Regions from separate parts of the Homo sapiens genome. Here regions 1, 2, 4, 5 and 6 are each linked to region 3. Evidence: fine-mapped expression QTL. A gene starts in region 3. Each other region holds a variant in brackets. All regions are shown on one strand. Distances are from middle to middle. Region 1 overlaps ZBTB5 (zinc finger and BTB domain containing 5). Region 2 has its middle 82 kb from the start of MIR4475. Region 3 holds the start of GRHPR (glyoxylate and hydroxypyruvate reductase). Region 4 has its middle 3.7 kb from the start of FBXO10. Region 5 has its middle 7.6 kb from the start of PAX5. Region 6 holds the start of POLR1E (RNA polymerase I subunit E).

Region 1 (5,073 bases), 38 kb before region 3:
TTGGTGACCTTACAGGTAAGACTACTTGGGTGGGGACCTGTTTTGGGCCCTTGGGTTTTGCTGAATAAACAGACTCTTTTTTTGAAGAGTCCTGAAGTCAACTCGTTTACTAGAGATTTGCCCCTTTTCCCTAAAAGTTGTGTCAAAACATAACTTTTAGTTAGCTGAGGATGCTGGCAAGCTGGATTTTGGTTAATTGATATGTCTCTAGCAGAATTCTGAAAATGGTAAGATTTGGAGGAAAGGCATCTTACAGACTTAGGAGCGAACGCTCTCAAAAGAGACTCACAAGACTGTCCCCAAAGTGGAAGTAATAAAAAATCACTGGGATATCAAATAGTACTTAAAGAACTCAGCATGAATTATATCGAATTGGAGACTTTAAAATATCTTGTGTTCAGTGAAATTGACAAAACCTGGTGTAGTGCTGACAGAGAATCTTGAATCTGGCTCACATTCGTTTTGGAAATGGAAAAAAGAACCCAAGGTATTGATTCTATGTTAGCTTTCAACTTTTTTTTTAATGTAAATTAATTTTAAATACTTTCCCCCTCTGTCAGTTTTAAGCGTGTGATTTTTCTTTTACTGTACGTAATATTTCTCAAATATGGATGTTGTCTAGTAGAGCCAGTTTTGTTAGTGTAGCAGGTGGGATGGAATGTAGCACTACACTATGCCTTTTGTCTAAGTATGAAGTGAACTTCTCATCTCCTAAAAGACCAGCTGTTTCTGAGTGAACTATTGCTCTTTGCATATGTTCTCATCATTTTCACCACTGAATAGTAGCTTTTAATTTCAAGATCCAGTTTTAGAGGTGCCTTTCATTTTATTAGTTATACATGTATTTCCTAAAAGCTTTGATTTATCTTGACATCCCAAACAGATTAGGTTACTCTGACAATTCGAAGGGTGAGGAGGGCAGAGAAGAATTTTATTGAGTGATGGAACAGCTCTCAGAGAAGAGGGCATGCAGGGGGTGGTCTCTTTCCCAGTGTGGCTGGTTCCGGGGCTTCTTAGGGACTCAGAATGGGGAGTGTGTGCTGATTGGTTTCTGATGCAAAAAGTTTAAAGGGAAGGCCGGGTGTGGTGGCTCACGCCTGTAATTACTGCAATTGGGGAGGCTGAGGCGGGCAGATTGCCTGAGCTCAGGAGTTCAAGACCAATCTGGCCAACATGGTGAAACCCTGTCTCTACTAAAAATACAAAAATTAACCCGGCATGGTGACGTGCGCCTGTAATCCCAGCTACTCAGGAGGCCGAGGCGGAAGAATCGCTTGAGCCTGGGAGGCAGAAGTTGCATTGAGCTGAGAGCATGCCACTGCACACTTGGAGTCTTGGAGACAGAGTGAGACCCTGTCTCAAAAAAAAAAAAAAAACGGTTAAAGCAAAGACACCACTCAAAGGTGGGCACGACAGTGTAGAAAACCAATTAGGAAAGGGGTAGATATATGTAAAATAGGTGAAGGGTGGGGATCAGTCAGAGGAAAGCATGCCAAATGGGAACACAGGTTCTCAATCTGGTCCGTGGATTTGACTTGTAGCTTGGCTTTCAAGCTTTTAAACTGTCTTCGGCTTGGAGGTGGGGTTTCACTGGGGATGTGCCCCTGTCTGCCTAGGCATTTGTCTGTCTCCTGCCTCTATCATAGTAGTCATTGGCAGACAGTTTTCCTTCCTTGAAGACAGGATACCATAAGTAAGCATTATGCCATAGCTTAATTGGCAGTTTTTTTCCTAGTGTTACATGAAATAATGCATTTTATAATCACAGACATCTTAGATTTAATGAAATTTGGTAAAATTAATAGAATTTTAGCTCAGGTGGCACACACCTGTAGTCCCAACTACTTGGGAGTCTGAGGCAGGAGGATCACTTGAGTTCAAACCAGCCCAGGCAACATAGTAAAATCCTGGCTGCCTATCCCCCATAAAGAGACTTTTGTACCCAACTAATTCCTTGTAATTGTAACCAATAAATTTTCCTAATTCGTTTTCCTGCTCTGGAAAATGTTTGTTACTGAAAAGAAGCCTATCGAGCGTGATATTTTTCCTTATGTAAATGGAAATTAACAAATAAAATGTTCATTTTACAAATTTTAAAGGATGATTAAGTGATAGGTCTACTTTTTGGAAATTATACTTGGTAATCTGTTACTTTGTATGGTAACAGGTTTACAAATGCCTTTATTCCTAATTTACTTTTTTTTTTGAGACAGGGTCTCACTCTGTCACCCAGGCTTGAGTGCAATGGCATAATCTGATCTCGGGTCACTGCAACCTCCGCCTCCTGGGTTCAAATGATTCTTGTGTCTCAGCCTCCTGAGTAGCTGGGACTACAGCTCGTGCCACCATGCCCGACTAATTTTTGTACTTTTTGGTAGAGACAGGGTTTCGCCATGTTGGCCAGGCTGGTCTTGAACTCCTGACCTCAGGTGATCCGACTGCCTTGGCCTCCCAAAGTGCGTGATTACAGGCATGAGAGCCACTGCACCTGGCTGATTGCCATTTTCTTAAGTTTAAAATGTTTAGGGTGAGTTGCTCCCCTTTTTTTCTATGCATGATATTGTTGACATGGTATAATTAATTTTTCAGTACATCTTAGTCAATTATAATTTAAAATCCACTCAACCATCTTCCTCTAAAAATACAAGGCTTTCACCTTTATAGTCCTTATGGTTTAGTCTTTTTTGCGAAGAGGATTTGAGGAAGGAAGACCAGGAAAACAAAATCCAGTGTTTGGGCATTTGGTTGTGGGAGGAGCCCAGAAATGCTACAAAAATCTAAACACATTTAAGTTACTTAGATTGTACTTATTTTGAATAGATGATCAAAAGCAACTCTGCAGGTCAAGTGAAGGTCACTTGCTGAGCATTA[T/C]TGATTTGATAAATGATTGAGAAGTGAAGGCATATACTGCTTTGAAAGTAAACTAGGTGTAAGAAATGGATTAAGTCCATGTTCATCTTCTCTGTTGGAAAGGCACCATAATAATAGTGTCTCCAAAGCTTTGTCATAGTTTTCATCTTGATAAAAGTTTAGTTTTTTTTTTTCTTTCTACTTTGTTCTGTTTTGCTTTTGAGATAGGGTCTTGCTCTGTCACCTGGGCTGGAGTGTAGTGGGATGGTCATAACTCACTGCAGCCCCAAACTCCTGGGCTCAAGCAACCCTCCCCCACCCAGCCTCCCAAGTAGCTGGGACTACAGGCATGCACCACCACGCCCAGCTAATTTTTGTATTTTTTGTGGAGGTGGGGGTCTCCCTATGTTTTCCAGGCTGGTCTTAGACTCCTGGACTCAAGCATTTCTCCCACCTTGGCCTCCCAACATGTTGAGATTATAGGCGTGAGCCACCATGCCCAGCACCCAGCTAATTAAAAAAAAATTTTTTTGTAGAGAAAAGGTTTTGCTATGTTAACCAAGCAGGTCTCAAATGAGCCTCCCGCTTCAGCCTCCCAAAGTACTGGGATTACAGGTGTGAGCCCCGCATCTGGCCTAATTTTTTTGGGGGGGGAGTGTTCACTCTTATTGCCCAGGCTGGATCCAGCGCAATGGCGCGATCTTGGCTCACTGCAACCTCCACCTCCCGGGTTCAAGCGATTCTCCTGCCTCAGCCCCCGAGTAGCTGGGATTACAGGCATGCACCACCATGCCCGGCTAATTTTTTATTTTTGGCAGAGACAGGGTTTCTCCATGTTGGTCAGGCTAGTTTCGAACTTCCGACCTCAGTTGATCCACCCGCCTCGGCCTCCCAAAGTGCTGGGATTACAGGCGTGAGCCACTGTGCCTAGCTGGACTAATTTTTTTCATTAAGAAAGAAGTTTCTTGGCCAGGCCCAGCATTTTGGGAGGCTGAGGTAGGCAGATCACAAGGTCAGTAGCTTGAGACTAGCCTGGCTAATATGATGAAACCCAGTCTTTACTAAAAATTAAAAAAAATGGCCTGGCGCAGTGGCTCACGCCTGTAATCCCAGCACTTTGGGAGGCCGAGACGGACAGATCATGAGGTCAGGAGATCGAGACCATCCTGACTAACAAGGTGAAACCCCGTCTCTACTAAAAATACAAAAAATTAGCCAGGTGTGGTGGCGGGCGCCCGTAGTCCCAGCTACTTGGGAGGCTAAGGCAGGAGAATGGCATGAACCCGGGAGGCAGAGCTTGCAGTGAGCCGAGATCGCACCACTGCACTCCAGCCTGGGCAACAGAGCAAGACTCATTTCAAAAAAAAAAAAAAAAATTAGCTGGGCATGGTGGTGCACGCCTGTAATCCCAGCTATTCGGGAGGCTGAGGCAGGAGGATTGCTTGAACTGGAGGTTGCAGTGAGCTGAGATTGTGCCACTGCACTCCAGCCTGGGTAACAGAGTGAGACTCTGCCTGAAAAAAAAAAAAAAGTTTCTTGATCTGTCAGGGGTAAAAGACATGTTTAAAAGTTGTTTATGCTACACATCAGTTGGGATTGGAAAGAAAAGAAAACTTTTTTTTTTTTTTGAGATAGAGTTTTGCTCTTGTTGCCCAGACTGGAGTACAGTGGTGCGATCTTGGCTCACTGCAACCTCTGCCTCCCAGGTTCAAGCGATTCTTCTGCCTCAGCCTCCCGAGTAGCTGGGATTACAGGCATGTGTCACCACGCCCCACCAATTTTTTGTATTTTTAGTAGAGACGGCTTTTCTCCATGTTGGTCAGGCTGGTCTCAAACTCCTGACCTCAGGTGATCCACCTGCCTTGGCCTCCCAAAGTGCTGGGAGTACAGGCTGAGAAGCAGGGGCTGGCATGCCCATGCCCTGTTTTACATTTTTTGTAAATCTCTTTAATATGTAGTTTAATAGAAGACAGCTGGATTCCATTAAATGCTTCTGCATTCATTTTGCCGTGATACACTATTTTGATTAAAATATACCAAAAAACTCCAGCATCACACAAATATGTAGTTGGAAAGGGAGGATTATTTCAGTAGATTTTTCAGATAATTTTGGATATTCTTACTCTGATACTGTACCAAAACTCCACAAGTGGTATTTTCTTAAGTGATTAGTGCAATGTGGAATCTGAAATTATGTCAATGAACTTTTCATATTCTGTTGCA
Region 2 (5,073 bases), 680 kb after region 3:
GAAGCAGGCAGCTTGAGGAGCAGTAGGTGCTCCAAAAAGAATCAATGCCCACTTCATTTAAGAAAGAAGTTCATTTTGTATCCATCAGAGACGCCCAAGATACAAAGCAATGTCAAGGGAAGAATGAGCTCCATGTCTCCAGAGACTTCAAGTGCAGCTGGATTATCTCCAGGAAGGCTGCTGCTGGGGCTCTAGAATGAGCTCAGCATTCTGAGAGAGGTGGAGGGGTTGAAGTGGGCAGCCCTGTACATCCCTCCAGCTGTGAGTTCTCTGCCACTCCCCCTTCAGCCTTACCTGGCACTGTGACCACCTCCAGCGTTTGCTCATGCAGTTTCTTCAGGCTGCAGGGCCCTGTCCCGCCTTGCCATCTGCAGGCCCCCTACTCAACTATCCTTTGATTCAACAATACATTTTCTAGCACCCACTCTGTGCTGGGGATATGGAGATTATTAAAACATGGTCCCTGTTCCCAAAACCCCAACCAGCTGTCTCCCTCCTCCCACCTGCCAGGCTGCTGAGCACAGGCAGCCAGCATCAGGCGACTGTGCGGGCCAGAGCACTGCTCATTCTACCCACCCCTCCCACTAGGAACCACGGGGTCCTCTTCTGTCTGCGCTCAAGGGTGTGAGCAGGCATGGGGGTTCTGGACAGCGGTGGGGAGGAGCATGGGGTAGCACAGGCCGCAGTTTATGGGGACTGGGGACTCTGCCTGGGAGAACCACAGAGCCCCATAGTCCCAGGTCTATACGGGGCCACTTCTCGACCCCAGAATGCCCTGGGGCCAGGCCCCTAGTCTCAGTCAATTCAGTGATTTCAGCCAAATACCAGTTTATTCTCCTCAGATCTGAGTCACGGCCCCTTGCTTTATCCCAAGAGGTCAGCCCCTAACAGGCAGAGGAATCGGGGCCCTGTAGCTCATCTGTGTTGAGATATATGCGCTTGCACTCTGAGCTCTAATGCCATAATCATCTTGAAAACGTAAGGACCTTCCCTCAATAAGGGGATGTTCACCTGAGCAAATTTATTCTCCTCATTGGTGCTGCATCCTACGCACTCCTGCTTACCTAAGAAGGGTTCTGGGGCCCCAAGGGGTGCCCATAGACTGGGCAGAGGGAGGCACAGAATGGGAGAGGCTGGGACAACAGTCCCCTTCCCTCCTCCCAGTCGTAGTGAGAATCACTTACAGAACAGTCCGGAAGAGTGCTTCTGCCTCTAGGAGCCCCAGATCAGAGCTGTGCACCTGCCCCTTTGGGGGAGGGGTAGGGAAGCTGCAGTTACCAGCTGCCATACCTGTCGGGGGAGCTCAGGATCCATGCAATGGAAGGCATTTTAGCTGATCCCCCTTGGAGAGGGCACTGCAGGTCTGAGCAGAGATTCCCGAAGCAAGGACTGGAGACAAAAAAAAAAAAGATACATGGATGAGAGGGTAGCTCGGGGTAGGAATTTCTTCAGCTCTCTACCCTCTTTCTCCCTATTGACACAATCAACAGACGTCAGTGTTCAGTGAATCTGTCATAAAAAAGGTTCAGTGGCATCTGTCATTTTTCTTAAGACATAAACTCCCCATCCTAAAAGGAGAAGCCTCCATGTTTACTCCATCTCATCCATTGAATCAAACAGCAGAACAAGGGCAGTGCCACAGCTGCCTGACCTTGTGCTGGCCGGAGCCCCTTCTGATGGCACATGCTGTAGGGAACAGGGGCTCCAGGATTGAAAGGGCGACCCAAGGTCCAGTTGGACGGATCCTGCTGGTTGCTTAGTTAGCGTCCCCATATTCGTTTCCCCCTTTAGCCTGTGAAACTCACTGAGAGCAGAGTGAGGCTTGGTCACCTTTACTTCTCCAGCACCTAGCACTGAGAGTATTAGATATTTTAGGCACAATCTCCTGATAGTAGTTATGCCTTAATTTTGTATAGTACTGTGCTTTTAAAAGCACATTCCTATCAAGCACCTCATCTTACCCTTAAATCTCCCCTTTTGTAGTAGTGGGCCAAATATTATCCCCATATGATAGATGAAGAAACTGAGGTTCCGTGAGGTTCGGTTAAGTGCCCACACTCTCCCATGCCACCCCACCTAGAAGCACACGTCTAATCAGTAGCAGCATCTAACCAGGCCCCTGCTCTGAATCTTCTTCCAGTGGTAAATTCTGCCACACCAAAATGACCCAGGCACAGCTAGAAATCTTTGAGAAACACCAAGGCATGGGAAAGTTGCCTGACAACTGTGGTCTGGCAAATGTTATTCTGGTTTGTTTTAAAGGAAAATAAGGAAGATGGCGCAAACTAGGGACCAGTGACCTTGACATCAACCCAGTCAAGACTGACGGTTGTGAGCAGCAAGGGACAGACATCAGTAGGAGGTGGCAGGGCCTGGGTGAGACCTTGGCATCCACATTTGCCAAAGTCAAATGCCCATAGACGATTACAATCAACCATGAAAATCTGTGACCAGGAAGTAGAATTTAATGTAGCGGTGTAGAAACCTTTGGTTTCTATGAGTCCCCTGGTTCTTTCCCTCCCTGCCTGCCAAGTGTTCAATGTTTGCCTTAGCTAACTTCTTTTAGCCATGTCTCTCTCTCTCTGTGTGTGTGCGTGTGTGTGTGTGTGTGTGTAAAATGCTCTAAATTACCCAGTGCCAGCCGCTGCATCCGGGGCTCAGGTCCTGTTTCTTAATGAT[A/G]ACAGATGGCTTTGAAGACGCAGTGGATCAATAGGGTCTGAATTCCTAAACTCTTGACAAGAGCTGGAGAGAACACACATCTCAATGCCCGCCCCACAGAAGCAGATGGAGGCCCTGTCCCTCACAGTCCTTCTTCTTCCATGGTCAGGTAAGCCAAAGGTGGGGCCCCGTGGGGTCACTCCGAGAGAGGGTTCGCCATCCTTGGTCCACTGTGTGGCAGATGGTTGCCCCATGCATTCAACAAACATTCAGCCATCTTATCTGGAAAGGGTTGTGCTTGGTGTTAGGGCAAGGGAGACGGAAAGAGGGAGGAGATGGTGAGGCCTGGCCCCTGTCCTAATGGAACTCAGCACTGTGAAGGAGACCCCACCATACAGAATGATCCCAATCCAGGGTGAAACAATCACCTACCGCTGCGTGCTGCTGTGGGCTGGACGTTACCGCCAGCTCTCAACATGCACCCTCTCATTTGGTCCTCAGCAGACCCTGGAGGAACTTGCTGCTGTCATCCCCAGAAGGGGAGGCCAGTGAGGTCATCTGGCCAGGGCTGCAGAGCTGGTGAGGTGGAAGCAGGATTTGGGCCTGGAATCCTCACCCACCACAGATGGATAAAGCTTCAGAAGAGAGGGAAATTACCTGGGCCTGGAGGGAGGGGGCATGGAATCAGGGAAGATGAGACTTGTGGGCTAGACCCTGGAGGACAAGAAGGATTTGGGGGAAAAGAGAGAGAGAGAGAACAGTCTAAGTAGACCCCATACCTGAAGCAAGGGCAGGGGGCAGGCAGGAGAGGTTCAGGAAATGGAGAGAGGCCACTCAAGAGAAGGACTAGTGGAGGCTGAAGCTGGAAAGGTGGTTCAGGGTCAAATGAGGCAAGCCCAGGGAGGGGAAGGGGATTTTCCTGAGTGGGGAAGAGGGAGCCACAGAAGGTAAGGTCTCTATGCGGGAGAGTCACCACCAGGGCAGTGAGCCCAAAAGAGCAGCCTGCAGGTTGCATCAACCACGAGACTGAATCAGAGAGCGAGGCCAGGCACGGAAGGCCTGGCCTGTGTACCCTGGCTCCGGAGCACCCCGCGTGGCCCCGCAGGTGCCATGGGAGGAGGAAGGGGGCCAGGAGGAGGCAGCCGGCTCCCCTCCACAGGTAAGTGATTGGATTAAGAGGCCTGTCTGACAGGATGTCCGTTCAGCCGCGGAGGCTAATCAACTTCCCCATCCTGTCTGCTAATAAATCCTGCTCCGGGGACCACTCTGCCTGATGATCTGTCCTCGGGGACCGGCGCAGCCTTCTCCCGGAGAACATCCCGCAGTCTATTAAGGCGGCCGCCGCGCGCTGTCAGGCCTCCGTCCCGGGGAGTCTCGGGAGGTGCCCATCACCCAGGTGCGCCCGCCGGGACCCCAGCCTTTGTGCGGCCACCGCGGGGGCTGACAGCCGTCCCGCTCCGAGGGGCCCGGACCCCCCAACCCTGGCGGCTCCGAGCTGCCGCAGGCTCTGCGTGCATAAATTAGGAGGCGGCGATTGTGAGATCTATAATATCTATAGAGAAGACGTATAAATAAATTAAAGCTTTAATTATTTTCTTGGATTCGCTGTAGCGCAAGAGAGCTAGTGGAAAGCTGTCGGGGAAGGGGGGAAGGACTGATTCTCTGAAGCCGCTCTAGTTTTTTTAGCTGCAGTGATTTTTTTCTCTCTTTTCTTCCTTCTGCTCCCCCAACCCCCAAAAGGCAAGAGTTGGGGCGGGGAGACAGTGAAACAATGTCCTTTGTTGCTCAAGATAAAAAGTACATGCCTTTTGACTTGCTTCCAAAACAGATGCCCCCCCCCATCTCCCACCCCCACCCCGACACACGAACACACACCACCAGCTTTCCTTTCTGTGAACACTGTCTATCCCACATTTTTATCAGTTCTGGAAGAACCTCCAAGGGCGTTATTAAATATGTGAAATACGCCAGAAATATTCAAGCAATCCCCATCTGGCCCTGGGAGGGAGGAAGAAAAGACTGGGAAAGTAATAAAGTGTGTTTATTTTTTAATCTAGATGACATGTTTTACATCATTAAAAAGGACAATTATTTTTAAAAATCAGCCTGCACGCTTCGATGGTTCAAGAGGTCTGCCGCCCCAGAATCCATCAGAACCTCACTCCACAGCCAGGCCTGGATCCACCCTCAAGGCCAAGTTACATTTTAAAACATTCAAAACCATGGAGGCAGTTGTGAGTCCTTTAGAAAGGCCTCATCTCTAAGGAGCAGGAAGGGAGGGGCCGTCTTATTACTGAGTCACGTCTTATTACTGAGTCACCTGGAAAAGAGGGTTTCTGATCCCAAGGCTCAGAGGATCTTAAATTCAGGCAGAGTTTCGAAGCTTGGTGGAAGTTAGATGGAGTTTGAAATGGC
Region 3 (5,073 bases):
TCCTGCAAGCAGGACACCACAAAGCTTCCAGGCCAAGGCCAGGATGTGGGGCGGCTCAGCACTGACTCACAAGGGTCCCTTCCCATCTGGCAGCCTCTGAGTCTGAACCTTTTCTCAAAACTGTCACAACAGCCTCACAGGGGGAGGTTTATTCTTCCATGGGCTGAGACCCGTGGCTGCGGTTGAGGAAAGACATCCTGCTGGGGCTTGGCACTGAGCTAGGTCCTCCCTCATACTACGCACACGCCCAGAAGGGGCAGGGTCTTGCTGGAGGTCACAGAGCAAGGTTGTGGCAGGGCTGGAGAACCCAGGGCCTTGGATGCACTTCCCCACACCCACAGTCTCCACACCGCGGTCTTTGCCCTCCTAGGGTCCCCCGCCAAGGGGTTCACAGCAGGAGGGAGGGGCAGTGCCTGTGCCAGAGCAAGCTATCTGCCCGCTCGGGCCTGGTATCGCAGGAAACGCCCTCAGAACCCAGACAGCACTGCAGAGCAGCCAGGAGCCAGCAGCACAGGCTGAGGGGCCCACAGGGCCAAGCCACCCTCAAGTCCCCTGCCCACCCAGTGTGCACCTGCAGCATCCAGGATCCTCTTGTCCACGTGGTCGGAGAGGAGGCAGAGCAGGCCGTGGGCCCCCGCCACACCTCGCTCTAGCTCCTTGGCAGGGATGGGCTCATCCGAGTCCCACTGCTCCACCTCACAGCTGCGGGGAAAGGGAGGCCCTCAGGAGAAGCAGGAGCCGCACACCTGTCCCCGCCCCTCCCAGCTGGGAATCCTGGCCTCTGATGGCCCTGGCCTCAGGCTGCCCGGGGCTGGCTGAGGGGAGGCAGGGTCAGGCAGGGGTGGTCTCAGAACTGTCCCGAGACAGCAGGTGACAGGTGAAGGGCTGAGGGGCCCCCCAGCAGAGCCTAAGCTGCAAGGGGGAAGGCATGGGGACAGCTCTCAGGTCAGCACAGAGAAGAGCTTTCCCACATTCACAGGGGCTGGGCGGCCAAGCAGGCGGCCAACTGCAGGGAAGGCCCGTGGGGGGCAGGGTGTGCCTCAGGTGGGGGGCCTGGATTCAATGGCCTGTTGCATCTCTTCCTGTCCGTGGAGTCCATGAAATAGAAAACTCTCATAGTTGGACTGGGCCAGGAAAGATAAGGTCAAGGCCACCCAACGCTTCCACGGCAGCTCACAGCAACCAGATATTTGTCCCAGTGATGCACGGTGCCTCCTGGCCCTTGCCATGGAATTCAGTACAGTCAGCACGTGTGGAGCCTCTATGTGGCAGGACACAGGATAGCTACTTGCACCTCCTGACTGAGCCCAGGGCACTGACCACCTTTCATCCACCTCCCCATGAGCAGGGTACAGCGTGAGCTACTGTTACCATGGGCGCGGTTGCTGCCTTCCACCTTCTCCTGCTCAGTACAAAGTGGGTCCTTGGCAAAGGTTTTGTTGCAGTGAACAAAATTTGAAAATCTCATATGCCCCTAGAACTGGCTGCTGAGGCTGGATTGCATCCTCTTCCTATCTAACATTGGAAACACAAACCTGATCAAATGCAGTGATCAGACAGCAGTCAGACACTTCTGAGTACAAGCCCCAGCTCCTCCACCTGGGAGCTGCATGGCTTTGGGAAGAAACTTAACCCTAAGTCCAGCCTCCAGTTTTTAATCTGTGCAATGGGAATTATAATACTGACTTCACAGTGCTACCAGGATTAAAAGTTTATGTATATGAAGCACCTGGCAAGGTTGGCCCACAAAAAGGGTTCCATTTAGCAAGGGTGGGCCAGGTGCAGTGGTTCATGCCTGTAATCCCAGCACTTTGGGAGGCTGAGGTGGGAGGATCCCTTCGTACAGGAGTTCAGGACCAGCCTGGGCAACACAGTGAGACCCTCGTCTTTGAAAAAAATAAAAAATTAGCCAGGCATGGTAGTGCATGCCTGTAGTAGTCCCAGCTACTTGGGAGGCTGAGGTGGAAGTATCTCTTGAGTCCAGGAGGTTGAGGCTGCAGTGAGGTATAATGGTGCCACTGCACTCCAGCCTGGATGAGAGTGAGACCCTGTCTTAAAAATTAAAGGGTCCTCAGGCCAGTCATGGTGACTAACACCTGTAATCCCAACACTTTGGGAGGCTGAGGCAAGAGGATTGCTTGAGCCCAGGAATTTGAGACCAGCCTGAGCAACAGAGTGAGACCCCCATCTCTACAAAAAAAAAATCAGAAAATTAGCCGGTAGTGATTGTTTGCGCCTGTAGTCCCAGCTACTCGGGAGGCTCAGGTGGGAGAACTGATTGGGCCCAAGAAGTCGAGGCTGCAGTAAGCCACGATCGATCGAGCCACTGCACTCCAGCCTGTGCAGCAGAGTGAGACTGTCTCAAAAAAAAAAAAAAAAAGATAAGTAAATATAAAGAAGAAGAGTCATCAAAGCCCCCTGCCAAACGTCCAAGGGCCTGGTCAGTGACCGCCATGTCCCTGACCCCACATGTCCTGTGGGAGCGTGGAGAATTAGCCTGGACCTTGCCTCAGGGGCAATCTCCCCTCTCCAAAGCCGGAACTGCAGGTCCCAGCGTCGTCTTAAGAGGAGAACTGGGCCCCAGAGAACTTTCTCCGAGACTCCCCAAAACTCCAAGCCTGCCCCAGCCGGCCACAAGGCCCAAACGCCCCGCCCGGCTCTCCGGTCCCTGGGACCGCCCTGCTCCCTCCTCCACGGCGCGCGAGGCTCTTACTCTGCCGCCCGGGCGAGCGCGACCCTACCCTCGGCGGGTATCCTGCGGGTGACGAACACCTTCATGAGTCGCACCGGTCTCATCCGCAGTGCAGCCGCCGACCCGGACCTGGCAGTACAGAAGCTGGCCCGGGAATGTAGCTGGGCCGGGGCGGGGCCAGGCTGGAGTGGGCGGGAGAGACGTCGCGCGCGGCGTGCGCAGGGGGTGTGGCTTCGCGAGAGGGAGCGCCGGGTTGCGGCTGAGCGGTGACTGTGCGTGCTCGGGGAGTGACAGTAACAGTGACCCTACACAGTGTCCTTGTGTGTGTGTGGGGGGGTGCGCCTCGTGCCACTGGGGAATCAGGGCCCCGGGGGAGAGGGGGCAGTATCCCGTCCAAGGCCTCATGGGAGCCCTGCTTTTTCTACACGCTCAGGGTCCTGTTTCCACAGGCTCAGGCCTTAAGAGACTGAAAGCCCCCACTTTTTCTGTCTCTTGGGTTGGCCCAGGGTAGAAACCCAGGTTCCAGGCTGTGAGGAAGTCCAGGACACACAGAGAGGTCACGTGTAGGTGTTCAGGCCAACAGCACAGCCAGGGGCCCGGCTCACAGCCACCGTCAATGACCAGAGGTATGAGTGAGGAAGCCTTCGGGTGACTCCAGGCCAACTCCCACCTGACTACAGCTAAAACTGCAAGAAAGAGCCTTTAGGAGAATCACTGGCTGAGCCCAGTCAACCCCGGAACCATAAGAGATGATAATGCACTGACTGCTGTTGCTCTAAGCCGTTCAATTTTGGAGTAATTCTTTATGCAGCAATAAATAAGTGATACGCTATGTGTGCGAAAGCCAGAAGCCATAAGAGTACAACTAATTCTCCATTGAAAAATTAACCGTACCATCCTGAATGCATCTGATCTTGGAAACTAAGCCTGGTTAGGGCTTGTATGGGAGACTGCCTGGAAATACCAGGTGCCTGGAAATACCAGGCTTATGTTTATCTTAAAAAAAAAAAATTAACAAAATCATAAGACAACAAACCGGGAAAAATACCATATATTTGCAACTCATTTTATAGACAAGGGGTTGATTTACTTATTGCACAAATAGTTCCTAAGACAAAGATGCCCAGCTTATCTGAATAAGCAAAGGATATCAATGGACAGTTTATAGAAAAGAAAATGGCCTTTAAATGTATGGCTGGGCGCGGTGGCTCATGCCTGTAATCCCAGCACTTTCGGAGGCCGAGGCAGGCGGATCACTTGAGGTCAGAAGTTTGAGACCAGCCTGGCCAACATGGTGAAACTCTGTCTGTACTGAATATACAAACATTAGGTGGGCATGGTGGCACATGCCTGTAATTCCAGCTACTCAGGAGGCTGAGGCAGGAGAATTGCTCATGAGTCCAGGAGATGGAGGTTGCAGTGAGCCGAGATCCCATCACTACACTCCAGCCTGGGTGACAGAGTGAGACTCCATCTAAAACAAAAAAAAACAAAACAAACAAAAAAAAAAAACAAAAGATGAAAAGTGCTCAACTTGACTCACAAAAGAACTGCATATTAAAATTACAGCAAGATACCAATGTAAAAAATAATACATTGGGGAACCAGGTGCTTTCATACGTTGCTGGTAGGAGTGTAAATCAGCAACTTCAATAAGAAAGTTTGGCAGTAGCTATCAAAGTTTAGACTGCACATCTTTTTTGACCCAGAAATTTTGCTTTTAGGAATTTACCTTACAGACGCGTTCACACATGTGCAAAATGCCATCTGCCAAAGGCTCTTCATTGTGGCATTGTTGGAATAGTAAAATATGGGAAACAACCTAAAGGTCCACTCATAGGGGACTGTTCATTACGTATGCTTCATTCCCACAGTGAAATACTCTGCATCAATCAAAAGAGTGAGGCAGCTCTGTGCGTACCAGTGTGGAATGATCTCCAAGATGTACTGTCCAGTGAGAAAACAGGGTGATGCAAAGTGCATATGTTACCATTTATAGGAGAAAGTATATGCCTATTCTTTTTTTTTTTTTTTTTTTTTTTTTTTTGAGACAGGATCTCAGTCTGTTATCTAGGCTGGAGGGCAATGGTGCAATCTTGGCTCACTGCAACCTCTACCTCCTGTGCTCCAATGATCCTCCCGCCTCAGCCTCCTGAGCAGCTGGGACCACAGGCATGTGCCACCACACCCAGCTAATGTTTTGTATTTTTTGTAGAGACAGGGTTTCATTATGTTGACCGGGCTTGTCTCGAACACCTGGGCTCAAAGCGATCCACTTCCAAAGTTCTGGGATTACAGGCGTGAGCCACGACACCTGGCCACCTATTTCTGTGTGTTAAATATCCCTGGAAAGATGTACAAGAAACATCTTTCTTGTTTCT
Region 4 (5,073 bases), 160 kb before region 3:
TACATGCTACTTGTGTATGCTCAGTATTACAGATATGCCTATGTGGTGTCAGTTGCCTACTTTAGCATAAGTACACAAAACATAGAAATCACATATGTAAAAGTTGAATATACTTGTTACTGAGATGTAAAACATTACAAAATCATTTATGCACTTTGTCTTTTAAACATACGAAATATTTTCAGAGTTATGAAATATGTTCTTAAATTGTTTCTTTCATTCAGAAATAAAACACAGCTGGTTTTAGTCCAACAGTCATTATAAGGCTAAAAAGATCTACTTTAAGCGTGTCTAATAGTTTTTCATCTTTTTCTCAGTCACATTAGTAATAGTAGAGTTGACCCTTGAACAACACAGATTTGAAGTGCACAGGTCCACTTACGTGCAGATTTTTTTCAAAAAATGCGTTGAAAAATCGGAGATTTGCAACAATTTGAAAAAAGCACACATATGTAGTCTAGAAATATTGAAAAAATTTAAGATAAAGGATGTCATGAATGCATAAAATATATGTAGATTGTAGTCTTACTCATAAAATGCACACATCTATTATAAAAAATTAAGATTTATCAAAACTTATGTACACAGACCATACATAGCACAATTTGAGGTCAAGAGAAAGATGCAGTATTAAATCATAACTGCATAAAATTATCTTTTGTAATAGTGTAATACAGTAAGTCCATAGCCACCTCTTGTTGCCACTGCAGGGAGCTCAAGTGTTATAGGTATCCACTTAAAATGCCATGTGACACTCATCTCTGCATGAGCAGTTCCTCGCTCCAGTAAATTGCAAATCAAAGTAAAAGCGATCCCTCTCTGTCTCATGTATTTTTTGTGTTTAATACCATACCACAAAACTTTGAATAACTCCATGGGATCTATACAGAGTGCCACTAGTGATGCTGGAAGTGCTCCCAGGAAGCAGAGAAAAGTCATGACATTAAAGGAAAAAGTTGAATTCTTGATATGTACTATAGATTGAGGTCTGCAGCTGTAGTTGCTCTGATTTCAGACACGACTAATCTTGTAAACAGACAACCTAAACTTAGAATCTAAATAAATACGGTATAGTACTGTCAATGCTTTTTCTCTCTGTGATTTTCTTAACATTTTCTCTAGCTTACTGTGTTGTAAGAATACAGTATATAATAGATAATGATACAAAATACATATTAATCTATTTTTTATGTTATCGGTAAGGTTTCTGTGCAACAGTAGGCTATTAGTAGTTAAGTTTTTGGGGAGTCAAAGTTACATGCAGATTTGTGACTGTGCAGGTGTCGGGGCCCCTAACTCCCACGTTTGTTCAAGTGCGGGGTATTTTCATTTCCACTTAAGTATATAGAGGCCAAAAATGCAAAAAAGAAAGAAACTATTACATAAACAGATGTACAAAGATAATACTGCATTTGAAATACAGTCACTTGAAATGTTCACTAATCAGCTTACATATTCAAGTATAAATTCGGTGAACAAAATGATTTAGGGACAGCGATATGTAATGTAAAAATTGTGGGTTGTTGGAAAGTAGAGATCTGTCTACATGGAAAGAATACTAGAATTAGGATTTCAATGTCCTAGATTATAGTTTCAGCTCTGCTATTTATCATGTGACTATGTGAGTCAGATTTTTTAGTTGCAAACACCAAAATCCAATTTTGACAGAAAAAGAAAAGTATTTTATTAAAAGGATAACAGGGAGTTCAGTATCACCAGGAGGCCTAGAGAATTAGGCTTGGAGAGTAGGCAACTGGAACATCACCCTTTGTTCCTTGGTCATACTCCACAGAGCTGGGGCAGTGAGGACGCCATTTCTGCTGAACATTAGGTGCCACCACTTACTTTGCCAAAGCCACATGCACAGAACCCTGGATCATGGCAGCCAGTGTTGCTCTAAGAACTTGCCGCACTTGCCATGGTCCCAGAGAAAATTATTCCAGAGACTTTATTGTGTCTCTGGTACTTAATTCAAAATCAAGAGTAATTTGTAGCATGATAGAATCACAAGGAGAAGCAGAGAAAATACCTGGAATTTCC[A/G]CTTCTATAGTGAAAGGCATGTTCTGCTTCCCAGCAAACTCATAAACAAGGAATTCCCAAATGTAGGAAGGGACCTCAGATGCTGGGCAGCCAAAAAGCATGGCATGTCCACTATGTTGACCTGGGACACCACTCTGTGTGAGCCTACTTTTTCTGGAAAGCAAAGTAAATAAAGCTCCCATGGCTGAGGAGATTTTGTGTGTTCACTTATACATTTGCCAGTAAACACCAGCCAGGTGCCAGTGTATAAAGATGAGTAAGTTTCCTCTCGAGTCTAATGGTAGGATAGAGGCATGCAGAGGTGAGATGAGGGCAGAAAGAAGAGAGGGCTCAACTGTAGTTTGTGAATGATGTTCTTATATTTAAGTAGTTATATTTTTGGCTGGGCGCATTGGCTTACACCTGTAATCCCACCACTTTGGGAGGCCGAGGCAGGTGGATTACCTGAGGTCAGGAGTTTGAGACCAGACTAATCAATATGGTGAAACCCTGTCTCTACTGAAAATGCGAAAGCCTGTAGTCCCAGCTACTTGGGAGGCTGAGACAGAAGAATCGCTTGAACCCAGGAGGTGGAGGTTGCAGTGAGCTGAGACTGAGCCACTGCACTCCAGCCTGGGCAACAGAGCGAGACTCTGTTTCAAAAAAAAAAAAAAAAAAAAAAAACCCCTGGCCAGGTGTGGTGGCTCATGCCTGTAATCCCAGAGCTTTGGGAGGCTGAGGCGGGCGAATCACCTGAGGTCGGGAGTTTGAGACCAGCCTGGCCAACATGGTGAAACCCCGTCTCTACTAAAATACAAAAATTAGCTGGGCCTAGTGGCTGGTACCTGTTAATACCAGCTACGGGGGAGGCTGAAGCAGGACAATCGCTTGAACCTGGGAGGTGGGGGTTGCGGTGAGCCAAGATCATGCCATTGCACTCCAGTCTGGGCGACAAGAGCAAAACCCCATCTCAAAACAAACAAAAATTCCCATGTGGCACGTGATGCTTGCCCCACTAATAGGGAAGACAGCTTGCTCTTGTAGGACACTGCTGTAGCACTTTGAAAGTCAGCTGTTTTATACAAATACCAAAATGATAATGTTAGCTGGCACAAATCCAGAAACTCAAGCTTTTGATTGTTTATTGACAGTCATATCTGGACTGCCAGTTTCATGGAGTAAGATACTTTTCAAAGGATTAAATATGGCATAGCTTTGTCAGTCAGCAAGGTAAATCATCAGGCTCATTGCAGTGTGAGACTACCCCTGTGGTCTTTCTACTATACCTAGCTACTGTACAACTTTGTGTCTTAAAATAAATTGTTGGCTTTAGGTTTTAGTGTTTGGTTTTCTTATTTATAAAAGAGACCAGCTACATGGTAACTTAGACCTCACCCAGAATCATACCACATTCACCATATGGTAATAATAGATGGAATACATTTTTATGGAATATATTCTATAGAACCAGGGACTGAAAAAGGTCAGTAGGACCACGGGGTCAATTATTTCAGGCCACAATTTCGTGTAATAATTTCTTTTTCATAGTATTCTTGGTAAATTATGTTTCTATAGCTGATATTCTCTCGTAAATTCCGGAGGTCTGTATCCAACTCCTTTTCTTTTTTAGAGACAGGGTCTTGCTTCGTTGCCCAGGTTGGTCTCAAACTCCTGGGTTCAAGCGATCCTCCTGCCTCAGCCTCCTGAGTAGCTGGGATTACAAGTGAACTGCTTTTTTTTTTTTTTTTTTGAGACACAGTCTCACTCTGCCACTCAGGCTGGAGTGCAGTGGCGCACGATCTCTGCTCACTGCAACCACCACCTCCCAGGTTCAAGCGATTCTCCTGCCTCAGCCTCCTGATAGCTGGAATTACAGGCACGCGCCACCACACCCAGCCAATTTTTGTGTTTTTAATAGAGACGGCGTTTCACCATGTTGGTCAGTCTGGTCTCAAACTCCTGACCTCGTGATTCGTCCGTTCGACCTCCCAGAGTGCTGGGATTACAGGCGTGAGCCACCACGCCCAGCCGTGAATTGCTTTTTTAATCACTCCACTTGGATGACACACAGGCATCTCAAAATTAATTATTTTTAATTGATAGATAATTGTACATATTTATGGGGTACATGTGATATTTGACTCATGCATACAATACGTAATGATCAAATCAGGGTATTTAGAATATCCATCTCAAAAATTTATCATTTATTTGTATTGGGAGCATTTAAATCTAGCTATTTTGAAATATACAATAAATTATTGTTAACTACAGTCACCCTACTGTGCTATTGAACACTAAAATTTATTCCTTCTATCCATGTTTGTACCCATTAACCAACCTCTCTCTATCCCCTTCCCCTCCCAGCCTCTGGTAACTGTCATTCTACTTGCCAACTGCATGAGATCAACTTTTTAGCTCCCACGTATGAGTGAGAACATGTGATATTTGTCTTTCTATGCGTGGCTTATTTCACTTTACATAATGACCTCCAGTTCCATCTGTGTTGCTGCAAATGACAGGCTGAATAGTATTCTGTTGTGTATATATGCCACATTCTTTTTATCCATTCATCTGTTGATGAAGACTTAGGTTGCTTCCATATCTTGGCTATTGCGAATAGTGCTGCAATAAACATGGGGATCCAGGCATACCTTTGACATACTGATTTCCATTCCTGGATAAATATCCAGCAGTGGGACTGCTGGATCATATGGCAGTTCTAGTTTTACTTTTTTGAGAAACCTCCATGCATTTTTCTATACTGGCTGTATAATTCAGTGTATGAGAGTTCCCTTTTCTCCATGTCCTCACCAGCATTTGTTATTTTTTTGTCTTTTTGTTAATAGTCATTCTAACTGGCAGTGTCAAATTTAACAAGTTCAAATGGGAGTTCTTGATCTCCCCCCGCTTCCAAATATATTCCCCTTACAATAGTTCCCATTTCAATAAATAGCACCTCCACGGGCCCAGTTAATAGGTTAAGCTACCAATCTCTGCTTCCACCCTTAACTCCTGTCTTCACATAGTAGCTGACATACTGCTTTAAAAGGT
Region 5 (5,073 bases), 380 kb after region 3:
GGTCAGGGGTTTTAGACTAGCCTGGCCAGCAAGGTAAAACCCCATCTCTACTAAAAATACAAAAATTAGCCAGGCATGGTGGCAGGCGCCTGTAATCCCAGCTACTCTGGAGGCTGAGGCAGGAGAATCGCTTGAACCTGGGAGGCAGAGGTTGCAGCGAGTCGAGATCATGGCATTGCACTCCAGCCTGGGTGACAGAGCAAGACTCCGTCTCAAAAAAAAAAAAAAAAAAAAAAAAAAAAAAAAAGATTTTCTGTAAGCAGCATTGGGGAATTCCAAACCCATCCTAACAATACTTTGTGAAGCAAATCCCAGCTGTTATATCATTTGGTCCTCACAATTGCCATGAGAAATAGGTTGAGTGGGTGGCACTTATTCTGCCCATTTTATAGGTTAGCAAACTGAGGGGCACAGAGGTGACGTCATGCTTCTAGGATGTGGTGAAGTGAGAGCTAGAGTCATGGGCTGCAGAGGACCAGTTCAGGGAGGATTTTACCTTCACCACATTTATTCATTCATCAGACTCTCAAATGAGCATTTTTATGTGCAACTCCTGTGCTGTTTTTGGGGTTGCAAAGAGGGATCAGACACTGTCTCACTGCTTTCATGAGAGGAAGGGAAGAGGACAAGGAGCCATGACAGTGTGACAAAGGCATTCACATAAGTGTGGCACCCAGGGGGAGTCTGATATGCTCACTAGTGGAATAACCCTAGACAGAGTGCAGACAGAAAAGCCCACAAAAGCAGGCATAGTGACTCCTGCTCAGCCAGGGAGGCCAGCAAGAGAGTCTTGCAAATCTCCAAAGGAAGTTCGGATGTTCCCGTGAGTGTTACCTGGGAGTAGCAAACCCTGGGGTGTGTAAGTGGATCAGACCTTAAGATTGCTCTAGGCTGGGTGTGGTGGCTCATGCTTGTAATCCCAGCACTTTGGGAAGCCAAGGCAGGTGGATGGCTTAAGCCCAGGAGTTCGAGACCAGCTTGGACAACCTGGTGAAACCCTGTCTCTACAAAAAATACAAACATTAGCAGGGCATGGTGGCTCATGCCAGTAGTCCCAGGTATTCAGGAAACTGAGGCAGGACAATCACTTGAGCATGGGAGATCAAGGCTGCAGTAAGCCATGGTGGGACCACTGCACTCCAGCCTGGGTGACAGAGTGAGACCTTGTCTCAAAAAAAAAATAAGATTAATGCAGTCCTTGAGGACTCTTGTTTCCTCAACTGGTCTCAATTTCATCACCAGGGAATTCTCTCTATTCTCCTGCCTTGCCAGTTCTTAAATAAGCCAAGCATTTTCTCCCTCCGAGCCATTGCTCATCATATTGAACTGTTGGTCTGTAGCATCCTTTTCCCTTTCTTTTCCAACTCACTCTTCCAGATCAAATGCTGCCTCCTTTAAGAAATCTTCATAGATTTCCTTAGCAGGAAGGGAGGACTCCACTTTTGTTTTCCTAATTGTATATAATTAAAAGCCTGGGCCAGGTGCAGTGGGTCATGCCTATAATCCCAGCACTTTGGGAGGCCAAGGTGGGCGGATCACTTGAGGCCAGGAGTTGGAGACCAGCTTGGCCAACATGGTGAAACCCTGTCTCTACTAAAAATACAAAAATTAGCCAAGTGTGGTGGTGTGTGCCTGAAATCCCAGCTGCTTGGGAGGCTGAGGTACAAGAATCACTTGAACCTGGGAGTCAGAGGTTTCAGTGAGCTGAGATCGTGCCACTGCACTCCAGCCTGGGGGACAGAACAAGATAGTCTCAAAAAAAAAAAAAAAAAAAAAAAAAAGCCGGATCAAGTTCTTCTGTGGATTAAAGGCTTATTTCTTCAGTGTGGCTTCGAGCAACTTGAGGCAGGAGGCTCTCATCTCCCTCCAGGACTAAGCACAAGGCTGTCTTTGCTGAATAGAATTGAATTAAAATGAGAGGAAGGGGGCACATCCATTACCAAAGTCAGACTTTTTTTGGTCCTTTTGGGGCAAATCAGGAATGGTTTGTCAATATGGCTGCTGATACTTTGGGGATCTGGATGTTGCCAGCCTCACAAATTCTCGTTCAGGGTGTTTAGACAGGTGTAGACCTGGTGAGTGGGGCAGGGGTCAGTGAATCACAGTGGCTTAGTGCTTGCTCTGAAAAAGCTTTTAAGCCAGTGTTTCTCAATGGATGGTCCAGGTACTTCCTGCACCCTACTCACCTGGGGAAGTTACTAGACGTTCAGGTTCCAAGCTCGGTCTCATAGCACTAAACCAAGCTCTCTGGGGCTGGGGCCCAGGGATCTGCATGTGATTCTTCTCACACTGAAGTGTAGAAGCTACTGTTATAAGGGAACAGAATGACTTACTTCCAGAAGAGCTGGTGCCCAAAGGAGAAGTCCTGCCCATGGGAGCCAGGAGACTAGGAGGAGTGGTGAGAACTGGACACAGACACTTCATCTCCAACCCATAAGGTAACAGGAAGGGTGAGCTCAGGGCTACGTGGCCTGAGCAGAGAATGGTGGCCACCAGCTGCGGCTCTGGGGG[G/A]GGTCTTTACAGCCTGAGAGGATTTGGTAAAGTTCATGAGGAGCATTCCAGGCTGAGGGTGGTTGGTTTGCTTTTCCAGACTGAGGTTGTTGAGGGAACTTTGTGCAAACTTCCCAGGGGAGAAGGTTAAAAAAAAAAAATCCAAAAAACTGATGGAGAGTAAGCTTTGCTATGTTTCTCTCCTTTGGTCCTAGGGCCTTTCTCTTATTTCTTCCCTTTGGCCTGTGGGTCCATTTACTCCATATGGTAAGGAGAGAATATGTCTTAGCTGCTGCTCTGGCCATCTTCATGAGGTACAGCAGGGGCCTGCCCACTCTAGCCATCTTCCTTCCTTTGTCCCGTTCCTCAAACCATTGTGAATTCCTTCCCTCAGAAGCATTTGCCATTCCTACATTGTTCCCAAACCCTTGGGCAGCTCTTTTTTCAGTATTTTGCTTGTATGTTGATATCCAGTAGCCTCTTCTGCAAAGTGCAGATCTTAGTTATGCCATCTGCTCCTTATTTATCTAGCAAAGTCCTACTTACCCTTCAACACTCATCTCAGGTCACCCTCTAGAGATGTCCCCTCCAGCCTCCCCCTTTCCAGAGTCTGGCTTCAGTACCTGGCACAGTTCTCCCAGATCTCTCTTGCTTGCACACATCTTCACTCTCTTACCATCTAAGTCGAGGCCTGTTTCCCTTCTGGACGGGGCCTGGTGCCCATTGTACTGTGGCTCCTAACCCAGGGCTGTGCACCCCTTTCCAGGGTGGCTTCGAGGATCAAAGGATGTTGTGTGAGGCTTGCTGAAGGCATCTCTGCAAATGTTCTTGCCCTCCTCCCTGGCTCTCATGACAGGGGAGGGTACTGAGCTGACTCCTTAGGCCGAGGGGGCAGGGAACACCAGTGACTCAGGCTTTCTGACGGGGTTTGGAGAAAGAGTGGAAGTCTATTCACTTGGGGTGTGTGTTCCTTCAGGACCAAGGAGCATGACCCCACCCCTTGCCACCCTCTCCCCTCCACGCCAGCTGGGATTCAGCTTCAGCCTGGGTGGCCAGAAGGGGCAGAGTTTTCCTTTGGGTCTTGGAAGCTGCCCCAGGTGGTACCCCCAGGCACCCAGCCTACACAGAAGACCTCAGAGGAAATGGAGGGGCCAAACGCTCGCTAAACGGGCTTTGGTGAAAGGAGCCAAGACAAAACCCAGCTCTGAGCTTAATTAAAAAGAGTGCGTAGTCCCTCCCCCAACAAATGCAGATTGCCCACAAAGAAGAACAGGAACCCAGTGGCCAGGAAGACCCGCAGCCTTATAAACAAGCACTTTGGGCTATGTAGGGCAGCTCTGCTATGATCTGATACAATGACTATTGTCAAGGAGGGCTGTTTTTCCATGTTTTTGTATCCTTTTCTTCATTTTCTTTTGCTACCTAATTTCATGCATCAGAGGTCAAAAGACAAAAGGTCAGGCCTGGTTTAGAGGCAGCAAACTCCCCACCACCAAGAACGTGTGTCCAAAAGAGCGCTTTGAGGCACCGCCTGCAGACACTGGCAGGTTTTCATCCCTGATTCTCTTTTGTCACTTCATGGGGTACATGAGTCTACGTGCAAATTGCATGAGAAATGAGACACCAACTGCTGTACCAAATTAGGAAAAAATTCACTAAACTGTTTCCATCTCATACTTTGTTTATAAGAATTTGTACCTAACAAGGAAAAGCCCATCTTTGAACTCTCAGCCTGCCTATGGTAGAGAACTTTACACACACACGCGCATGTATATGTAAATATATACATACATAAAATATATATACATATACACACATATATCCTGTAAAAATAAAATCTGAGTACATATTTCTTAATTGTTTTGCTGGGAAGATTTATAAAGATCTGTCCAGAAAATTGCCAATACTTGTTCTAAAGATTGTTTTAGTTGAAAGGATAGCAGCATTTCAGTATGAACAATTTAGCATGATTATTTTGGTACGTATTTCGTATGAATATTTTGTCCTCAGACTGCAAATCTTTCCAATGTATCATTTTGGATTCTTAGGTAATAGTAGATTGACGGAGTTTCCTTATGTGATAGGTCCACACTATGTGTTTATAACGAGGATACAATGTCATGATTTTCCATTAGAAATATTTTCATGATTTAGGGGGATAATGACTTTCTGATTCTATGTCCATAAGCTCCTCATATTAGATATTTCAGATGGTTTTCATCTGACCGAAAATAAATTAGGGGATATCTTTAATTTTTCTTTGTGTAGAGGATTTTTTTTTTTTTGGTAGATTTGCATTCAGTGCCAGAAGGCCCCCACCTCCAGTACAAAGTGAAGGAAAAGTTAAGGCTTTGGGAAGTGTCTCTGGTGATGGCTAAACACTGAGACTGGCTTCAGGGCTCATCTCAAAGGCACTTTGGCCCAAGTGTAGCTCATCTTTTCCATCTTACTCTGGGCTGGGTTGCTAAAGATAGTTAATCAGCAGCAAACCTGAAAGATTTTTAGAGCACAGTTTTATTTCCGGCACGTTCTCAAATCCAGACTTCATATCCTGTAGCCCCCTGACCTTCCCAAAAGACTTCC
Region 6 (5,073 bases), 63 kb before region 3:
CCCACAGCAATTCTCTGCATAGAGAGGGAATAGGAAAGGATAGGATGGGATGGGAGGATATGAGGTGGTTCTGGGAAAAAAAAAAAAGCTACTAGGTGATTCTGATAGTTGATCACATTTGGGCTCACTGCGGTAGTGTAATGGAAAACTCTTTTGGGGTGTACGAACCTAGAATTACACTACAATTTATGGCACAACAGTTTTATGGAGGCAAAATCAAGTAAACGGGGAGGAGACCAATTGGAACTAGGGCATCTCTGAGAGGGGAGAGTGCAGGGTTAATAGTTCTCAGCACCTATACACCCATCTGACCTCTCCTCTATTGGAGTATGGTCCACCGGGGCTCAGAAAGGGCCTAGTTTGTAGTTCATTGTTGGGTACCATCACAGGGCCCTGTCTGCATCATGCCAGCCCCCGAGAGTGATACAGTTCAGGCTGGACAATCTTCACTGTACAGAGGGGGAGGCTGGGGGTCAGTGATGCGCAGAGTTACCCAGCCACTCAGTCAATCAGCAGCACAGCTGGATGGGAATCCCAGGCTCCTCTTTCCCAGTCCAGAGCCTTCAACACTACCAAGTTCTTTACCTGTCGTTAGTTCCCAGGTAAACTTCACGCAAGCTTTGACCTACTAGTCACACATTCCAAATTAATGGAGAGACCTGCCTTTTGGAATAAGACAGCTATAAATAAACAAGATTACAAATGAATGAGGTTTTTAGGAAATTCAAGTTATCTTTCCTTTCCAGCAACGTCTACACGTGCAGGGAAGGGCTCTGGGTCTAATAGGAACACAGGGATCACCTAGTAAACCTCTCTAGATGGCTCCTGCTACCCTTAAAACAGACAGGAAACAGCAGTGCCAGTGCTGCCACCACTCCCAACCCCATCACCCTTCCCACTGTCCCTTCCCCTGCCATTACCTGCACAAAGTGTTGCATTTGAGGGCTCCAGTCCCAAAATTGTTTCCCACATAGGAGAGCCTATCTGTTTCAGCTGCCTAAAATGCAGAGAGGGGAAACTCCATTTACAACCAATGTTGAAAGGTATTAAGCATCATTTCTCTTTTCTACATTTGCTGAGGCTTTTGAATCCAGACTCACAATGGATTAGAACTAGTTCATCTCTGGCAGATGATCCAGCCCCACTATCTCTAAGGGAATATGGGGTGTCCCTGCAGGGGAAGCAAGACGACTTCTGGAAGAGAAGCCTCAGATGGTGCTAGCTTCTAAATGGTATGAAAAGCTCTTGGGGGAATTCTGCCACAAGACTTGAGAGAGAGGCCCTGGGCTTCTGGCACTTAAAGGTATGCAACAAAGTGATTCTGTAAGCAATCTCTCTTTGGCCTGTTCTTTGTATACTCTCAGGACCATGGCTGATTCACTCCCCAATCATAAGCAAGCTTTCCTGCTTCTCTGCATTTGTCCTCACTATCCTTTTCACTCGAAACACCAAACGTTGACTGCCAAACCCTCATTCCAGCCTTCAAGGCTCAGCTCCAACATGACCTCACCAAGGAAGGCATTCTGGCAGAGACCTCTCCTCCCACTGAGCTCACTCTGCCCTGTACTCTTCCCCACGTGGCCTCAGAGCTTTGTGTAAAAGTGTCCCTCACAGCCAGTTCTCATCTCTCTAGAGCAGAGGTTCTCAATCCAGGGAAATCCACTCTGGTGCTACTGGCATCTAATGAGTAGAGACTAGGGATGCTGCCCCCACAGCAAAGAATTATTGGCCCAAAAAGTCAATAGTCCTGAGGTTGAGAAACCCTGCTCTAGAGTATGAACTCTGAGTGGGGCTAGGCCTGATTTGGCTGTTTTCCTAGAAGCTTGCAGCACAGGGATGCAGAGGGGCAGGTTCCATAAATGCTTGTTGAAAGAACAAATGAATGAAAGATGGAGCCTGTCCCCACATCCCAGGCTGCTGGGCATCAGAGTTCTTCAAAGCTCCATTTGCTACTACTCCCCTTTTTCTCCCCTCACTCCCTCCCACATCCACCCACTCCCAGGGGCCTTCTGAGCCCTGCAGAGTGGAGACAGCTGGCAACTGCTTCACTTACCAGGATCCGTTGATTCCTCTTCCTGGGGTTGGTGGAATCTTTGTTCTCATACAAGGTAAAGCGCATGTTGCCTGGACTCTGTAGCTTCCCGTTGGAGAACTGGACTGTAAGAGTGCAGCCCAAGAATGAGATGAGAGCAGAAGGCCACACAATGTACCACACAATGTACGGTGGGACTAGACTGTCACTGGGAGGGAGTGTCAGAATGGGGATGGCAAGGAAGCTCGGGTCCTGACCCAAAGGGAACTGGAGGAGATCCGGGGCCAGCTGAGAAGAGGAGGTAGGGAGGTGGGAGAACCCTGGGGAGGGGCTGTGACAGGAGGGAATGTCTCGCGGAAGGAGGCTGACAGCAGAGGCCTGGTACATACCTAAAGTGACAGAAGGAACCCCTGCCCAGTGAAGAGAGGGAAATGGGGGAGG[C/T]GGGAGACCTGGTGGGTGAGGGGGTCAGCAGGGTCCTGGACACAGCTCTGGGGAGCGGGTGAGTGGGATGTCCCAATCTGGCTGGGAGGTAGTGACAGAAAGACGGACAGGGGAGCCCTGACAGAGCCCAGGGGAGTGGTGGAGACTAGAGGGGTCCCGGCCCCGCTGGGGAGAAGCCCAACGGAGGGCGAGAGGACAGCTGAGGTACCGAGACGGAAGGGGAGAGGGTTAGAGGAGCACTGCTCCAGCTCCGCAGTCTTTACCCAGTACAGCTCTCTGGCTCCCGTCGGGCGCCCCACAATACTGCCACCTCGCACTCGGCAACACCTCCGCCGCCATCTCGCCTGTCTGTCCGCCAAGCACAGGAGTTAAGACAGCAGCAGCCACAAGCGCACTTTTAAACACGCGGGAGCCCAGGCCGCGCTGCGGGCCGGAAAAGGCGTGGCCCCGCCGGGCACCGCCCACAGCGCGCGAGCCGCGTGTCCCCGCCCCCCGCGTAGAGAGGCGTGGTCTCCGCCCACAAGGTGCCACACACCCGCTTGACTGGCCGAGGCGCAGCACCTGATTGGCTCAGCGCTCGCGTGCACTCTGGGTTTTGTAGGTCCAGAGCCCGAGGCGCCAAAGGCTTCAGCCTAAGCTTGCTATGAGCCTTCTTCCGGCTCAGCACCTTCTAAAGAGAGTGTCGTCTCTCTCTCCTACCGTGACAAACTCATCTTCCCAAGACCTGAAGGACCAAGTTCAAATTTAGAATTCTCTGACAGGAACTGCTTGAGCCCCAACTAAATGTGGCCGCTGGCGAATAGCCGCCCCTCTCTAGGGCTTCCCACCCACCCACGTGGACATCCAGCTCTAGGTACAAACTTTGTCCACAGTCCGACAAACAGCTCCCCGCCATGGGCTGTGGCGTGCACACCTGTGGCCCAATCAACACTGAGGTGATGGAACAGAAGCCCAGCCAACCCCGGAGCCTTTGGGCAGGAGATTCTGGACTGGAATAGAAGAGGGAGTCCGAGCTGATGGACATGTCCCTTTTTCACTGCGGATTCAACCCTTCTTCTGCACGGGGAGTTTTCAGAGCAGAAAGAAGGCGAAAGCAGGGCCTTTAAGCATGGACGCTGGCCGAGGCCCCCTTTGCCCAAAGATGCGTACTATTGAAGGGCAAGAACTCCGGTTGACTCCCCTCTGTCTTCCAAATCACCTTCTTTCAAGACTCTTTTCCTTCCACACACCCTCAACACCCGCCTCCAACACCCAGGATCCTAGGAATAACCCTAAAGCCTGCATGCCCCTTTGCCTGAGCACTTGTCACGCTTTTCTAATTACCCAATCTCAAACGTAAAGAAACACTGCAAGAAATGTTTTTGCCCTGAACCATTTAGAGTAAGTTGTCAACCTGATACCCTTTCAACCCTGAAGACTATAGTATTTCCTACAGACATTCCCTAAATAACAACACAGCCATCAGAATCAGCAAATTGCCGGGCGCAGTGGTTCACGCCTGCAATCCCAGCACTTTGGGAGGGAGAGGCAGTTCTATCCCTTGATTCCAGGAGTTTGAGACCAGGCTGGGCAACATAACAAGACCCTGTCTCTACAAAAAATAATATTAGCCATGTGTGGTGGCGCACGCGTGTCGTCCCAGCTACTCGGGAGGCTGAGGTGGGAGGATTGCTTGAGCCTAGGAGGCAGAGGCTGCAGTGAGCTGTGATGGTGCCACTGCACTCTAGCCTGGGCGACAAAAAAAAAAAAAAAAATTAAACAGAAAAGAATCAGGAAATTAGCACTGGTACATTACCACCATGTAATCCTCACATCCCATTTAAGTTCACCCATTGTCCCAACGTTTGTTGTTAGTTTGTTTTTTGAGACAGGGTCTCACTCTGTCACCCAGGCTGGAGTGCAGTGTTGCAACCAGGGCTCACTGCAGCCTTGACCTTCCAGGCTCAAGTGATCCTCTCACCACAACCTGGGAATACAAGTGTGTGCCACCACACTCAGTTTTGTTTTGTTTTTTCTTAATTAAAAAAATTTTTTGTAGAGACTAGGTCTCACTGTGTTGCCAGGGCTGGTCTCAGACTCCTGGGCTCAAGTGATCCTCCCACCTTGGCCTCCCAAAGTTCTGGGATTACAGGCGTGAGCCATTGCAGCTGGCCCAATCATGTTTTTATAGCAAAAATGTCCTGTCAAGAATCATGTGTTGCATTTAGCTCTCATAGCCTTTCCTCCCTTAGAAGGCTACCTTGCTTGACCCCACCTCATGATTTTGGATTGAATTGTTCAGGAAAGGAAAAGGGAAGAAGAAGAAAGAAGAAAGAAGGATGAAGAAAGAAGAGCTTAATTGTGTGATTGTCTCACCCATTGATTGTTTCCTCACTAAACTTACTTGGGGTTCACAATAAACACTTTGGAGGTTAATAAACAAATTTATGTTTGTTTTGATCACTGCTTTATCTCCAAATCCTGAACATACTAGACCCTCAATAAATATGGAATGAATTAATGAATGACAGGGCAAAGAATGGGCCTGAATTATCACTAATCTTGGAAGCCTAGCACAGGGACTGGAACTCAAAGATGTTTGGTAATATTGGTTGAAATCA

What was found.
Region 1: its variant is fine-mapped to the expression of GRHPR in whole blood (INTERVAL, PIP 0.97).
Region 2: its variant is fine-mapped to the expression of GRHPR in spinal cord (GTEx, PIP 0.98).
Region 4: its variant is fine-mapped to the expression of GRHPR in whole blood (INTERVAL, PIP 0.99).
Region 5: its variant is fine-mapped to the expression of GRHPR in B cells (Schmiedel 2018, PIP 0.91).
Region 6: its variant is fine-mapped to the expression of GRHPR in whole blood (INTERVAL, PIP above 0.99).

The regions. Positions count from the first base shown.
Region 1 is chr9:37,458,866-37,463,938 of GRCh38, reverse strand. All of the region lies in intron 1 of ZBTB5 (zinc finger and BTB domain containing 5), which reads left to right. Among named protein-coding and RNA genes, the nearest start is that of ZBTB5, 4.0 kb to the left of the region's middle. The variant T/C (reference allele first, on the strand shown) is at 2,872.
Region 2 is chr9:36,738,656-36,743,728 of GRCh38, reverse strand. No RefSeq gene overlaps it. Among named protein-coding and RNA genes, the nearest start is that of MIR4475, 82 kb to the left of the region's middle. RefSeq lists an enhancer at 4,125-5,073. The variant A/G (reference allele first, on the strand shown) is at 2,680.
Region 3 is chr9:37,420,474-37,425,546 of GRCh38, reverse strand. It overlaps GRHPR (glyoxylate and hydroxypyruvate reductase), which reads right to left and starts at 2,851. Exons shown (of 9, transcript NM_012203.2): 1 at 2,714-2,851; 2 at 572-702. The coding sequence starts at 2,796. RefSeq lists enhancers at 1-579, 2,254-2,879, 2,880-3,505 and a silencer at 2,890-3,039.
Region 4 is chr9:37,577,514-37,582,586 of GRCh38, reverse strand. No RefSeq gene overlaps it. Among named protein-coding and RNA genes, the nearest start is that of FBXO10, 3.7 kb to the right of the region's middle. The variant A/G (reference allele first, on the strand shown) is at 2,041.
Region 5 is chr9:37,039,375-37,044,447 of GRCh38, reverse strand. No RefSeq gene overlaps it. Among named protein-coding and RNA genes, the nearest start is that of PAX5, 7.6 kb to the right of the region's middle. The variant G/A (reference allele first, on the strand shown) is at 2,512.
Region 6 is chr9:37,483,787-37,488,859 of GRCh38, reverse strand. It overlaps POLR1E (RNA polymerase I subunit E), which reads right to left and starts at 2,912. Exons shown (of 12, transcript NM_022490.4): 1 at 2,737-2,912; 2 at 2,054-2,157; 3 at 921-997. The coding sequence starts at 2,812. RefSeq lists a silencer at 2,785-3,114 and an enhancer at 2,856-3,447. The variant C/T (reference allele first, on the strand shown) is at 2,474.